Linked DNA regions of Homo sapiens: regions 1 and 3 are each linked to region 2. Evidence: fine-mapped expression QTL. A gene starts in region 2. Each other region holds a variant in brackets. All regions are shown on one strand. Distances are between the middles of the regions.

Region 1 (4,295 bases), 140 kb before region 2:
CTGAAGCTGGTGATTAGCAGCTTCCCAGTAAGATCTCAGGAATTGGGCAGGTGGGCTCAAGCATGTGCACTAAGAGGCAAAATGGTGGAGTTTAACTGGTATATGACCTTCCTCTAGCAACACTCGACTGGTAAGGAAAAAAATGCCTAAAATGAACATGCACACAACTTTAGTAAACATACTGTGCATGCTCCCCTCCCAAGTGCTGGCAGGCCACTGCGAATGCAGACAGCCTGTCCCAAGAAAAGAAATCAAGGGAGGAGAGATGCAAACCCCGGAACCATGCCAATGTATAAAACCCTAAGTCAAAGGTCAAACAGGGCACTTGTATCTCTCAAGTTGCCCCCTTGGCCCTCTTTTTGTTCCTACTCTAAAGCTTTTTAATAAAATCTTACTCCCGCTCAAAAACTTGCCTGAGTCTCTCACTCTGCCTTATGCCCCTCGGTCAAATTCTTTCCTTCAAGGGGGCAAGAATTGAGTTGCCGCAGACCCATGTTGATTAACCGCTGCTAGCAGGGGCTGTCCTGTGCATTGTAGGATGTTTAGCATATTTTTATTTTAGATATTTTTATTTTATGTATTATTTTTGAGACAGGGTCTCACTCGGTCATCCTGGCTGAGTACAGTAGCACGAGCATAGCTCACTGCAGCTTTGACCTGCTAGGCTCAAGTGATTCTCCTGCCTCAGCATCCCATGTAGTTGGGACTCCAGGCATGTGCCACAACACCTGTCTAATTTTTTTGATTTTTTGTAGAGATGGGATCGCATTTTGTTGCCCTAGCAGGCCTCTAATTCCTGGGCTCAAGCAATCCTCCCACCTAGGCCTCCCAAAGTGCTAGGATTATAGGTGTGAGCCACCATACCTGTCCTCAATTCTCTATTTTTAATGGGTGCTAAAAGAGTTACAATATGTGTTCTTAATTTATCCCACTCTACTCTGAATTAATATTATACCACTTTATGTATAATTAGAGTACCCTTTGATATTATAATTCCATTTGTCACCTTTATGTTCATTCTGCGCTTATTATCTTATATCTTACTTCTTGTTATTAATACCACAATATATTGTTTTTATTTCTGTTATAGTTAATTGTTTTTTAAAGGAATTGGGTAAAGCAAACCAACAGCATAGATACTTACGTACCTATTTATAATCTCTTTATTTTCTTTCTTTTTTTTTTCAGATGGAATCTCACTCTGTCTCCCAGGCTAGAGTGCAGTGGTGCTATCTCAGCTCACTGCAACCTCCGCCTCCCAGGTTCAAGTGATTCTTCTACCTCAGCCTTCTGAGTAGCTGGGATTACAGGCACCCGCCACCATGCCCAGCTATTTTTGTATTTTTAGTAGAAACAGGTTTTCACCATGTTGGCCAGCCTGGTCTCGAACTCCTGACCTCAGGTGATCCACCCACCTAGGCCTCCCAAAGTGCCAGGATTATAGGCATGAGCCACCGTGCCCAGCCTATAATTTCTAAAAACCCTTCAATGCTATAGATCTATATTTCCATCAGGCATCATTTTCCTTCAGCCTAAAGAAATTTCTTTGGTATTTCTTGCTGGCAAAAATTAGCTTCTACTTATCTACATTTTGAAAGACATTTTTGCTTGAAATCATTCTATGTTGACAGATTTTCTTTTAGCACTTTAAAATGCTATTTTATTGTCTTGTGGCCTCAGTTGTTTCTGATGAGTAGTCAGTCATCATTCCTATGATATGCCTAGGTGTTTTCTTTGTATAGATCCTATTTTAGGCTCACTTGAACATCTGAGATCTGTGGATTGATAGTTTAAATCAAATTTGGGTTTTTT[TC/C]AGATTGAGAGGATGCAGGTTTGGGGACTTTCCTCTTTGTGGCTGCTTCTTTTTGGGATTCCCTTCCTCAATTTCCAACTAATCTGACCCCCAGATTGCTTACTTCTGACTTATCAATCTGGGATGATGGCTGCTTTCTGCTTGAGCTCTATCCAGATGTTCTGAGCAAACTAGGGAGATCCTTTGGGGAAAAATTTGGTTAAATGTGGATCCCACCTCTACTTATTCTCCCCTTTTAAGGGTCATATCTCCTTCAGTTTCTGCTTGCTTTTGTCAGGATCCATTGCTTAAAGAATTGTGTTCTACATTTTCTTCCAGAATTATAATTGTTATTTGTAAGAGGATTAGTTTGATATGAGCAGCTTCACCATCAGTGTCACATTAAGTTTTAAATGTAAGATATATCTAGGGGTTAACTCTTCTAAGAATAATTGCATTGTAATAAAAGATAAAGCATACACAAATTTTTTTGGTAGACTTTTTGCTATTAACATGCAAGTACAAACGTACTTTTGGGAAAGTCAATAGTGTCCACATAAACAGTGACCTGCTCAGTGCATAGGCTATATCAGCAGCTCTTAAAAATCTCCCATCCCCTACTTTTGTCTCTCTTCCATTGAGACAATTAATCTTCCTCTACTATTCCTAAAAGAAGAGGGCAAAAAATGGGGGAATGCTCTTTTCACTTTCCAGAACAAATTTCTATCCACTACATAACAATGACTATTCTGAAATTTAAAAATAATATCTGCCCATATTGCTTAATTCCATAGACTTCTCTTCCCTCTCTCAGATAACTGTCTATCTAACCCACAGTCTTCCTCCTCTTTCAATCTTGGGTCAAACTGTTAATGATGTCACATGTATTGACATCATGGTATTCCACTAGTGACCAGCGAGCACATCATAGTTTTTCATTCTTTTTGGCCAAATGCCCTATTGTTTCAATTTTTTTTATCAGGTATTTGGAATCAACAGGGTCTTTACTGTGACTCTGTTCTATTGACTGCTGGAATCTCTAAATCTGTGTTTTCCTACATTTACTACATCTTTCTTTTTGTTTAATATTTTCACTCCTTACAACCACTGAACACTGTTTACCCTACGCACTTCATGAGATCACTCTTTCTATACTGTTATATTTGTTTGTTACTTTAATATCATTAGAACCCCTTAATTTTGCCTCTTATACTCACTAATTTCTGGACTTAAGTCCATTTGTTCCATTCCTGTACCCACAAAATGGAAGACAAACAACAACAACATCAACAACAAAACCCACCAGGTTTCTTTAAAGCTAGATCTGCTGTCCTGCTAACTTATCATGAAACAGTTAAATATCTCTAGGTAGAAACCCTGGCATCTCCCACACCTTAAATAGGAGAAAAGGAGTAGTCTGAGAACCTGGCTCTACCTCTAATATAGCTTTGCCATTAACCAGTATAAAACTTTGAATTACTCACCCAACCCTCCATTTTCCTGTCTGTAAAATGAGGAAAATATTCGAGAACTTGAAACCCACTACAATCCGTCTCTGTGTTTCACTAGCCCAGTTTAAAACTGGAGAGAAGCAAATTCCATGCTAGCAAGTATAATAGCAATAGAGGGAGGAAGGATTGACTGCCAGCTAGGAATTGAGCTGCAAGTGTCTTGAAGCTTTCATCTGTGAAAATGTAGGCACTGTGAGACTTAGAAAGTAACAGGCCAGACACTGGATCAGTATAAACTGCAAGGAGGTGGCCTGGGTAGAGAGATTTGCTGGTTGTTTTTCTCCCCAGCACTGGTCTGAGTCTCTCACTTAGGGCTTCATGCTATCTCTTTCTTCCTGTCCCAATTCCCCACATTTCCCTCTCCACCACCCCAAAACATAATCTAATTTTTATTCTTAATTGGTCCTGGTTATAAAATTTAGATCTAGTCTACATTATTATATATATTCTTCAATAAAGTTTTAAACTCTTTAATTAAAAAGGCAAATGATTTTATTGTTCGATAATCTTTTAAAAAAATAAGAGGAAGGAGTAAAATTAAAGATGAAAGATGATTTTTATTTCCTTGTGACCTCTATATCCCCCTTCCCCTGCCCTTGGTAAGTAACTCTTGATGGAGAAAGGATTAAAGACTCTTATTTAACCAAAAAACAGAGCCAGCTAATCATTTCCAAAGGTTAGTATCTCCCTGCTGACCTCTTCTTTGGTTTAATTGAATAAAACTATATGTTCATATATGTATTAAAACAAACTCAGAATAACATCTTTTCTTCCTTAGTTAAGGCATTATAAGGGCTATAACTATCATCCATAATAACCAAGGCAATAACTTAGAAAGCTGCTTTGATGGGAGTAGAAACTTACAAACAAATAAATTCAATAGACCTTTGTCATAAAACCGGTATGAAGAGACAAAGGTAATACCCATATTGTTAAAGGTTACCTCTTACAGTGAAAAAAGATCTCTGAGCATTAGCAGTGAGATTTCATCT
Region 2 (4,295 bases):
TCAAAAAAAAAAAAAAAAGAAATTTAGAAAAAATAAAGATGTGATTTACTTTTCCCATCCATGTTTATGCATGCATTTGCGGACCCCAGGTAAGAGCCCCTGGTTTAAGTGGAAATTAAAGTAATATGCCTGAGTTAACATGCTGTAGTTTGAGGGGATCACTATTCATCTTTTCACTATTTATCTTTTCTTCCCCACCTGATTTTAGGACAAACTGAGAGTAAAAGATGCAGGAATAAAACACAGAAATCAAAATAAAGGGTTTACTGCTGAAAAATCCGCTTGAACAAGCCTGTTAATGTGATCTTCCTGAATGAAGCCAGCTTACCCCTAGGCCTCCACTGTCCCTCAGGAAAGAGAACACGAAAACTGGAACTCTCTGCAGAAAGGAGGATCCCAAAGAAGGGGCCAAGCTGTACATTTATCAATCAGGAAAGCCACTCCACCCTCCATGGCAGCCCCTACAATTTGAAACAAGTATTCTTCCTAACATAACACATTAATTCATGAGTTTATCAGTTCATTTCATTTTTACTTTGAGATTTTTGTGAATAACCATAGAAAAATCTATTTCACCTGGCAATAAATAGGAAAAGGCACAGCATAATGTTTAAATACAGAGAATATTGTTACATGTAAGATGTTGATTGAATGTTCTAAATACAATTTGAAAACTGCGTGAGAGGAGGAAAACGTATATTCAGAAGGACTTAGGTGAATCCAGATGAATATTTTCATGACAGGATGTTGGCTATTGATATGAAGAAAGTAGAGGAATAGACTTGCTAAAAGTTAGAGGAGTCTAGTTTATCTTCCAAGAAGCTTTGCAACCCTGTAATACTGTAGAAATCACAAATTTGGCAATAATTTTAAGATAATTTATGTTCATTTTTTATGGAATGCCATGTTTATCTTTTTATATATGACATTTTCTGGTCAGTAGTAATATATATATCCTTTATTAAAATTGGAAAATAAATACAAACATTTTATTTATTTATTGGTTAAAAAATTATTATGCTCATTCTTTTTTTTTTTAACCAGTAAGGATCTGGATAAAGAAAAACATTTTAGAAAACCACTTGTAGAGTACCATGAACCAGTCTCTCTTCTCCATTTTAAAAAATTTATTGACTCACTTTTTTTCCATAACTTTTTGAGATATTATTTCAACCACTTTGCATTTAGAGAAAAAGAGTCAGAGAGTGATTAAGAAATCTGCCCAATGCTATACTGATAGAAGCTGGGAGAACTGGGATTTGAGCTTACATAGGCTAGTTCTAGCATTTGTGAAGTTCTCGCCTAATAAAAATTATCTGTAATCATAACCAGAGCAAGTCATTTCTAACCTCCTGTCTATAGACACGCGGATACATTTGTAATGTTTTTGTTTGTTTGTTTTTAGCACGACAGATCAATTCCTGCTGGCATTATAGTTCTTTAACTATCATAGCTTCTCTGATTTTTCAACACATCTGTCATCCGTATTCTGCAGGCATAGCCAACTCTGTCAGTGTCTCCTCAGGCAATCAGAATCAACAGACAGAATGTAGGACAGAAAACTGGCTGCAAACATGTTGGAAGGGCTGGAGGAGCGAAAGAGGGAAGATCTGTTACCTAGAGATAGTAACTTCCAGAAGTTACCACTATACTAGTGCAGGAGAAGCAGAAAGGAAGATGCTGCTACCCAGAGCCCACAGTCATTGTGCCCCTGATGCCGCTGGAACCCCACTGCAGCTGCTTTACAGGAAGCAGGGAATTAGCGCTCTTGCTGATGCTACAGGTATCCAGGATCCAAAAGTCATCAGCCGCTGTCCCTGTTGCAGCCTAGGGAAACTGTCCCACTGAGGTTGTTGGGGTACCTGCTACTGCATCTACTGTCTGAACCATGTTGCCTGAGCAGATGTCCAGGGCTCAGGCTTGCCTGCTGCTGTTACTGCTGCCACCATGTTTATCAGAGCTACTTCAAGAAGAGAAGAAATCCTCCTCATTTCCAGTTTTTTCCAGTGCCTCCCATTGCTTCCCAGAATGCCAAATTCTCTTTGAGAGACAGCTGAAAGGAAGGTTTGGAAAAGACTCTGGTGTAAGCAGATTCTGCTTCCCTGCAATAGGGGGAAAGCATAGGGTGGAACTGGAGCTGAGAGCTAATCACGAATGAGCAAATCAGTCTTCAAGACATTTACCTTTCCTTGAAACGTTTCCCTTCTTTTACCGTGTTTTCCATGTCATTATTTTTCCACAATTCTGCATCATATTCTGTTAACTATTAATGCCCTGGATAAGTTTATTTGCTCTTTCTTAGGGTTAATTTTTCTCCTTTTCTTCGAAGCTTTAGTTTGCAGGTTCAGCTTGTGTGGGAATTTTCATCTCCCTCCTCTTCAAGACTCCTTGGATATCAGTTTTTTGGTTGCCTTCACCAACTCTCCCCCCACCATCTCTAGACCAGGGCATGGTCTTAGTTGGTGGCTTGGACTCCTGTGGCTTGGAGTCTTTGGGGATATTAGAGATCCAGTCACTGAGCTGGCAAAGGGAACACTGTCCTTGCTTCCAGCTTTATGAAGAACGCTTTGCTCTGTCACCCCACGTGAGTCCAACTCTTGGCTGCCTACACTGCCTGAGGCTTCAGTTCTGGCATCGTGCTGCATGTGATCTATTATCCTGCTTTTGAATATGCCTATGACTTTTCTTTATATATTTTTAAAAATGTTATTATTGGTATGTTTACAGTGAAGGGAAGAATGTGAAGCATGAACTCAAGAGTCACAGTAATGATAAATTTTAATGATTGTAATTGTCCTATCTGTCATAATACATTTATTTTGTTGATTTGTTTGGATTTTCTAGGTAAATAATCATGTTATTCAAGGATAATGAATGCAGCCACCATGTAATCATCACTGACTCCATGGCAAGTACACTCTGCCTTGTGCTTTATATACTTGTCAGGACTCAGAAATGGGCAAAGAGGATCACTGGTGTCTTTCAGTGGAGTGCTGGGCATTATAGTGGAGTCCTGGATTATCTGATTCCAAGAATTCACACCTTGACTTTCTATTGACTAGGTTATTTTGCAGCTCTGCAGAGGTAGCTGTTAAATTGTTGAAAACTGCTGACAATGCAGCAAATTCTTATTCATACCAAAGCAAACAAATTTTGACTGGTTGATTATAAAGCTCTATAAGTCAAATTCTCATTTGAACAGATCTTACTATATTAGTGGTTCCCTCAGTAATTAAAGAGTTGAAATAAAATCTTTGACATATGTTTCTTTTATAACTGTAGAAGGGTCATAATTTTACTTTTTTGAAAATTATCCTTTAGCATACATAGTATCTTTTAGTCTTCACAACCTGAGAGGTAAGTATCACTCCCATTTAATAGATGAGAAAACCGAGACTCAGATCAAATGCTTGCCTGCTCAATGTCAGATTAACTACTAAGTGGTCAAGCTGGGATTTGAATGCCAAATTTTGCTCTCTTCAAGCTCTGCTTTCAAGATCTGTGGTCTTACATATTTTTGCTTCCTGGAGAAACCCCATTTACTCACAAATAAAATGATGAAAAAATATGAACTTTGATAAAACAATATTAATAATGACTAATATTTATTAAGTGTTTACTGTAAGCCAAACACCAAACTAAACTTATTTGGATTAATTCATGTAAGTAACAATGAGAGAAGTGAGTTTAAAGAGGTTCAATAACATGCTCAAGGCTTTACATGCTATTTCTAACTTTTTCTCTTCTTTCTCCAAATGCCTAGTTTTCCACATTAGCTGCACGCTAGAATCATCTAGAGAGAGCTCCTTAAAAATATTAGGGTATCAGCATATCTTAAAAGATTCCTAGGTGATTCTAATATGGAGAATCACCACATAATAGAGAGGACTTTTCCTGCTTCCCTAGCTGATACTTAAGAGAACTGGACAAATCTGCAATATTTGTTTTGGTTTTTCTGCTGTAGCTTGGAAAAGGAGTAATGGGGCTGAAATCTGTACTATCCTGAAGCTTGAGTGTCTAGATGTATGCAGGGCTTAGCTAAAAGCATTTGAAAAAGCATCTCAGCCAAAGGTCAAATCATAGCAGGAGCACAGCAATTTAGAGAAACCATCTGAGTGGTAAGAAAATGACTTTTACATGGACTCACTAAAAGATTTAGATATGCCTTAATAAGGCCAGACAATAACACATATTGTCAGTATTTGCTAAACAAATTCTCTTCTTGTAATTTGGAAATGATTTCAATCACATATTAATATTTTATATAAACATCCTTATCCCCTTGCCCACAGAAG
Region 3 (4,139 bases), 28 kb before region 2:
GTTACATTTTATGATTTATGAGTGGTAGTATTAGAGGTTTTTATGTAAAGATTTTTGAAACATAATTTATCTAACTGAAACTTTAAAATAGGATAGTTGTTACTATTCCTGTTTGCTGGATAATTCTTATTTATCTTTGGTTTAATTTCTTTTAAAATTAAATTGGTTGTTAGAATATTTTTCTCACACATAGACATGGAAGTCAGATTCATTCTTTGTGATGTTTGTAGCCACCATTCAAGTGAATTTGTAGTAAGTCTTGGTCAATATGATTTTAAATAATATATATAATTGTTTTATATTATGATATATAAATGTAAAATATTCTGAATTTTAATTTTTAATAATGGTGTAATTACATACTTTCTAAAGCTACTAAATGTCTCAATATACTACACTTAATATTGTTTCAAGTATATGCTGAGTTGCCATTATAATTTCTGTTAGGTTTTAAGTATACAATTTTAAATCATCGCTATTAAGTACCAACTGCTAATGACAGATGAAAACGTGGTCATGCATTATTTCTTTATAAAGAATAGATATTCAGGCTGTCTTCAATTTGTACTCTCTTTTATTCGTTTTATACTAATGATTATCTGATATTATTATTATTTTAGACATTCTAGAGCCCCTTAGTTAAATAAAAGATTAAAGGGGAACAGCTTATCCCACCCTTTCCATGGCCAACTCATGGGGATGATCAAAATAAGCACTCTTAACATCAAGAAGCTTTAAAATAAGGTCTTTAGTATTGGGATAAAGTTGTCCAAGTTGAAAAAGAACTTGTTTGCTATAATCTCCCACTGTGTGTGCCAAGGCAGGATACTCTAAAAGGGGATGACGTGGTTTACAAAGGATCAAGTAATAGTGACTCCTCTTGGACAATGACTTGAGAGCTGTTAATTCAGAGGAACACTCAGGTCTTAAAAGATCACTAAAAAAGGCAGGTTGTGAACTACACAGTTCCAGCCTATGAACAGAAATATCTCTTTAAGATGTTTTATGCTTTTTTTCTGATCAGAGATGGGGGCCTGGTCCCCTCTGATCCCCTCACTTTTAAGACTGTCATATCATTCACAGATGCTTACTTTCTAGTGATCCAGTTGGTTCGTAGTATTTTTCTTAAAATAGCAAAATACAGAGTGTCAGAACTGGCCACATTTTTTACCCAACAATTGCTAACAAGATTAGTGTCATTTTAAAAAAAATCTTAGTACTCATCATACTAAAAACATGCTTGACCCTTGCAGCCCTTTCTTTACCTCCTAATGCAAAGGGAGCCTTAAATGCCCACATGAAAGGAAAGCAAAGCTCTTGAGTTTTACTCACTAAACTGTAAGCTCCTTAAGGGCCGAAATGTATCTTAGTCATATAAATATCTGGGCACTCAGTTGATGTTTGTGGATAGATGGACAGATGTTGAAAGAGGCAGGTATTCGTACTCCTGTTTTAGATATGAAAAATGTAAGCAAAAAGGATTAATTACCATGGCTGTGGTATGAAACTTGTTTAAAGTTGGCATTTAAATTCAAGTCTGCAACATTAAAGTTCTGTGTACAGAGCCGTTTTCCCACTGTAGCAGCAGCGCAGCAGCAGCGCTGCTATGATTGATTAAGCACTTGCTATGTGCCAGAGTTAATAATTGTGATAATATATTAACTCATTTAATTTTCAGGAAACTAAGACATGGAAAGGTTAGGTAACTTGCCCAAGGTCGCACAGCTAGTAAGTGGCAGACATCCAGAGTCTCTGCTCTGCTCTTAACTCTCACCATACTACCTCTGTATCCATTTCATAAATAAAGATAGTAGTTTCTTATAACAGTAATGCATTTG[TC/C]TTACCCATGAATACCTCCTTTCTCATATTTTTAATTTTTTATTGTTACCAAAGTAATTTGTGCTTATGGCATTTAAAAATTGGTGCCTGCAGCTTTAGATAGACTGTGGAAGGAAAAGACTACCACAAAGTTCCTAAGGTTGGTATTTAGCTCCTAGTGACAACATGACAAAGGAAAGTTGCTGAATGCTAGAATTTAACAATCTCTGCTTAATACTGTTTCCATGTGAAGCATTAGGTACACACATTGTGTGTACCTAGGGCTTACCTGGTATGTGACCTAAATTCAATGTCAGCGAGGCCCTTGAGCCAGAAAGCCCATTTCCCCACAGTACTAAAAGATCTGCAGGATTTTCCCTTTATCTTTGATATTCAGGCCCTCAATACTTTCTAAGTTGTAAATGTTTTCTTCCATTATCTATGTTATTATTACTTCTCATGTTCCTTTCCTCCTCTTTCGTTGGCTCCTGGATCTGACCTCCATGCTTCTTGGTCTTTTCCCTCAGGTTATCTGCACTGGGTCTCTTATGAGGTATTTCCTCCAGCGATTTTTCTGACCACTAATGTTATTTTCAAAGTCAGTCATTCTCTTTTTCTGTTGGATATTGAACTTTTAATTAAGAAATCGTGGTAGTTTTTAATTTCTGAAAATCTTTTCTATTTTTAGTTCTATAATTCCATGATATTTTTCATTAAAATTATCTTCTGTCTCTTCCATTGGTTCTGCTTCAGTAGACATCTCTCTTATTTCTGTTGCACTGGTCATCTTTCTTCCCATGCCCCATAAATGAATTTAACTTTTCCTGGCCTACTCAAGCTATGGTTTCCTCAGCATCTGCCAGCACCCTGTTGTGCACATCTCTTGGGCAGTAGCAAATTAAGTGTTAAGAGATGCGGTGGCTTCATTTCTCATGGGCCTATGAGACCTCTTACCATCTGATAACTTTCTATGAGGAGCTGTTTTGCTCCCAGACCTTTTCAGTCTCAAGCAGCAGTTCTTTCCCAACTACAAAGATTGGAAAGCCCTTCACTAGAGAGCCCCTTCAAGGTTTTCTGAGGTCAGCAGGTCTGTTGCAGCAAACGGCAAATGAAGTCCTCTTAGAAAGTGAGTCACAGCAGGGTCTGTAGCTGGAAAAATATACAGCAATTTAAAGAATGAATTTGATCTATCTGCTGGCTTGCAGTTTATTCGTTATATTTAGGTGAAAAAAAGTCACAAAGTCATGTTTATTTTTGTAATTAAAAACCTCTCTGTATATAGGTTCACATATGTTGGTATGCACATGGAGAAAGGAATAGAAACCCACACACGTGATACGGTTTGGTTCTGTGTCCCCAACCAAATCTCATCTCAAATTGTAATCCCCACGTGTTGGGGGAGGGGCCTGGTGGGAGGTGATTGGATCATGGGGGTGCATTTCCCCCTTGCTGTTTTCTGGGTTCTCATGAGATTCAATGATTTAAAACTGTGTGGCAGTTCCCCCCGACTCTCTCAGTCCTCCTCCTGCTCTGCCATGGTAGGATGTGCTTCCTTCCCCTTTGCCTTCCACCATAATTGTAAGTTTCCTGAGGCATCCCAGTCATGCTTCCTGTTAAGCCTGTGGAACTGACTCAAACTCAAATCAGCAAGATAAAAATAATCCCATTAAAAAGTGGACAAAGGATATGAATAGACAAATTCTCAAAAGAAGATATGCAAGTGACCGACAAACATGAAAAAAATGCTCAATATCACTAATGGTCAGGGAAATGCAAATTAAAACCACAGTGAGATACCACCTTACTACTGCAAGAATGGTCTTAATAAAAAAATCAGAAAAGAATAGATGTTGGCATGGATGTAGTGAAAAGGGAACACTTCTACACTGCTGGTGGGAATGTAAACTAGTACAACCACTATGGAAAATAGGATGGAGAGTCCTTAAAGAACTAAAAGTAAAACTACCATTTGATCCAGCAATCCCACTACTGGGTATCTACCCAAAGGAAAAGAAGTCATTATGTGAAAAATAACTTGCATTTGCATGTTTATAGCAGCACAATTTGCAATTGCAAAAATATGGAACCAGCCTAAATGCCTGTCAACCAATGAGTGCATAAAGAAAATGTGGTACATATACATTGTGGAATACTACTCAGCCACAAAAAGGAAAAAAAATCACAGCATTCACAGCAACCTGGATGGAGTGGGAGACCATTATTCTAAGTGAAGTAACTCAGAAATGGAAAACCAAATATTATATGTTCTCATTCATAAGTGGGAGCTAAGCTATGAGGACACAAAGGCATAAGAATGATAC

Alleles and levels. Positions count from the first base shown, and alleles are read on the strand shown. Sizes are in standard deviations (SD) of each study's normalised expression. Not every link is listed here.
In carriers of allele TC in region 3, the expression in adrenal gland of the gene that starts at base 1,639 in region 2 tends to be lower than with C alone (moderate effect, 0.49 SD a copy in GTEx).

The links. PIP is the estimated chance that this variant, and not a neighbour inherited with it, causes the effect. A credible set is the group of variants that fine-mapping cannot tell apart.
Region 1: its variant is the best candidate, but not a certain one, in a credible set for the expression of LINC02795 in whole blood (TOPMed, PIP 0.77).
Region 3: its variant is the best candidate, but not a certain one, in a credible set for the expression of LINC02795 in adrenal gland (GTEx, PIP 0.53).

What each region holds. Positions count from the first base shown.
Region 1 is chr1:86,456,036-86,460,330 of GRCh38, reverse strand. It overlaps CLCA2 (chloride channel accessory 2), which reads right to left. Exons shown (of 14, transcript NM_006536.7): 14 at 3,778-4,295. Among named protein-coding and RNA genes, the nearest start is that of CLCA1, 11 kb to the left of the region's middle. The variant TC/C (reference allele first, on the strand shown) is at 1,813.
Region 2 is chr1:86,316,945-86,321,239 of GRCh38, reverse strand. LINC02795 (long intergenic non-protein coding RNA 2795) reads left to right here and starts at 1,639. Exons shown (of 4, transcript NR_187380.1): 1 at 1,639-2,584; 2 at 2,845-2,908. It overlaps LOC105378825 (a long non-coding RNA gene), which reads left to right. Exons shown (of 3, transcript XR_007066205.1): 3 at 209-936.
Region 3 is chr1:86,344,528-86,348,666 of GRCh38, reverse strand. It overlaps ODF2L (outer dense fiber of sperm tails 2 like), which reads left to right. Exons shown (of 17, transcript NM_001366781.1): 17 at 1-1,830. Among named protein-coding and RNA genes, the nearest start is that of MIR7856, 11 kb to the left of the region's middle. The variant TC/C (reference allele first, on the strand shown) is at 1,839.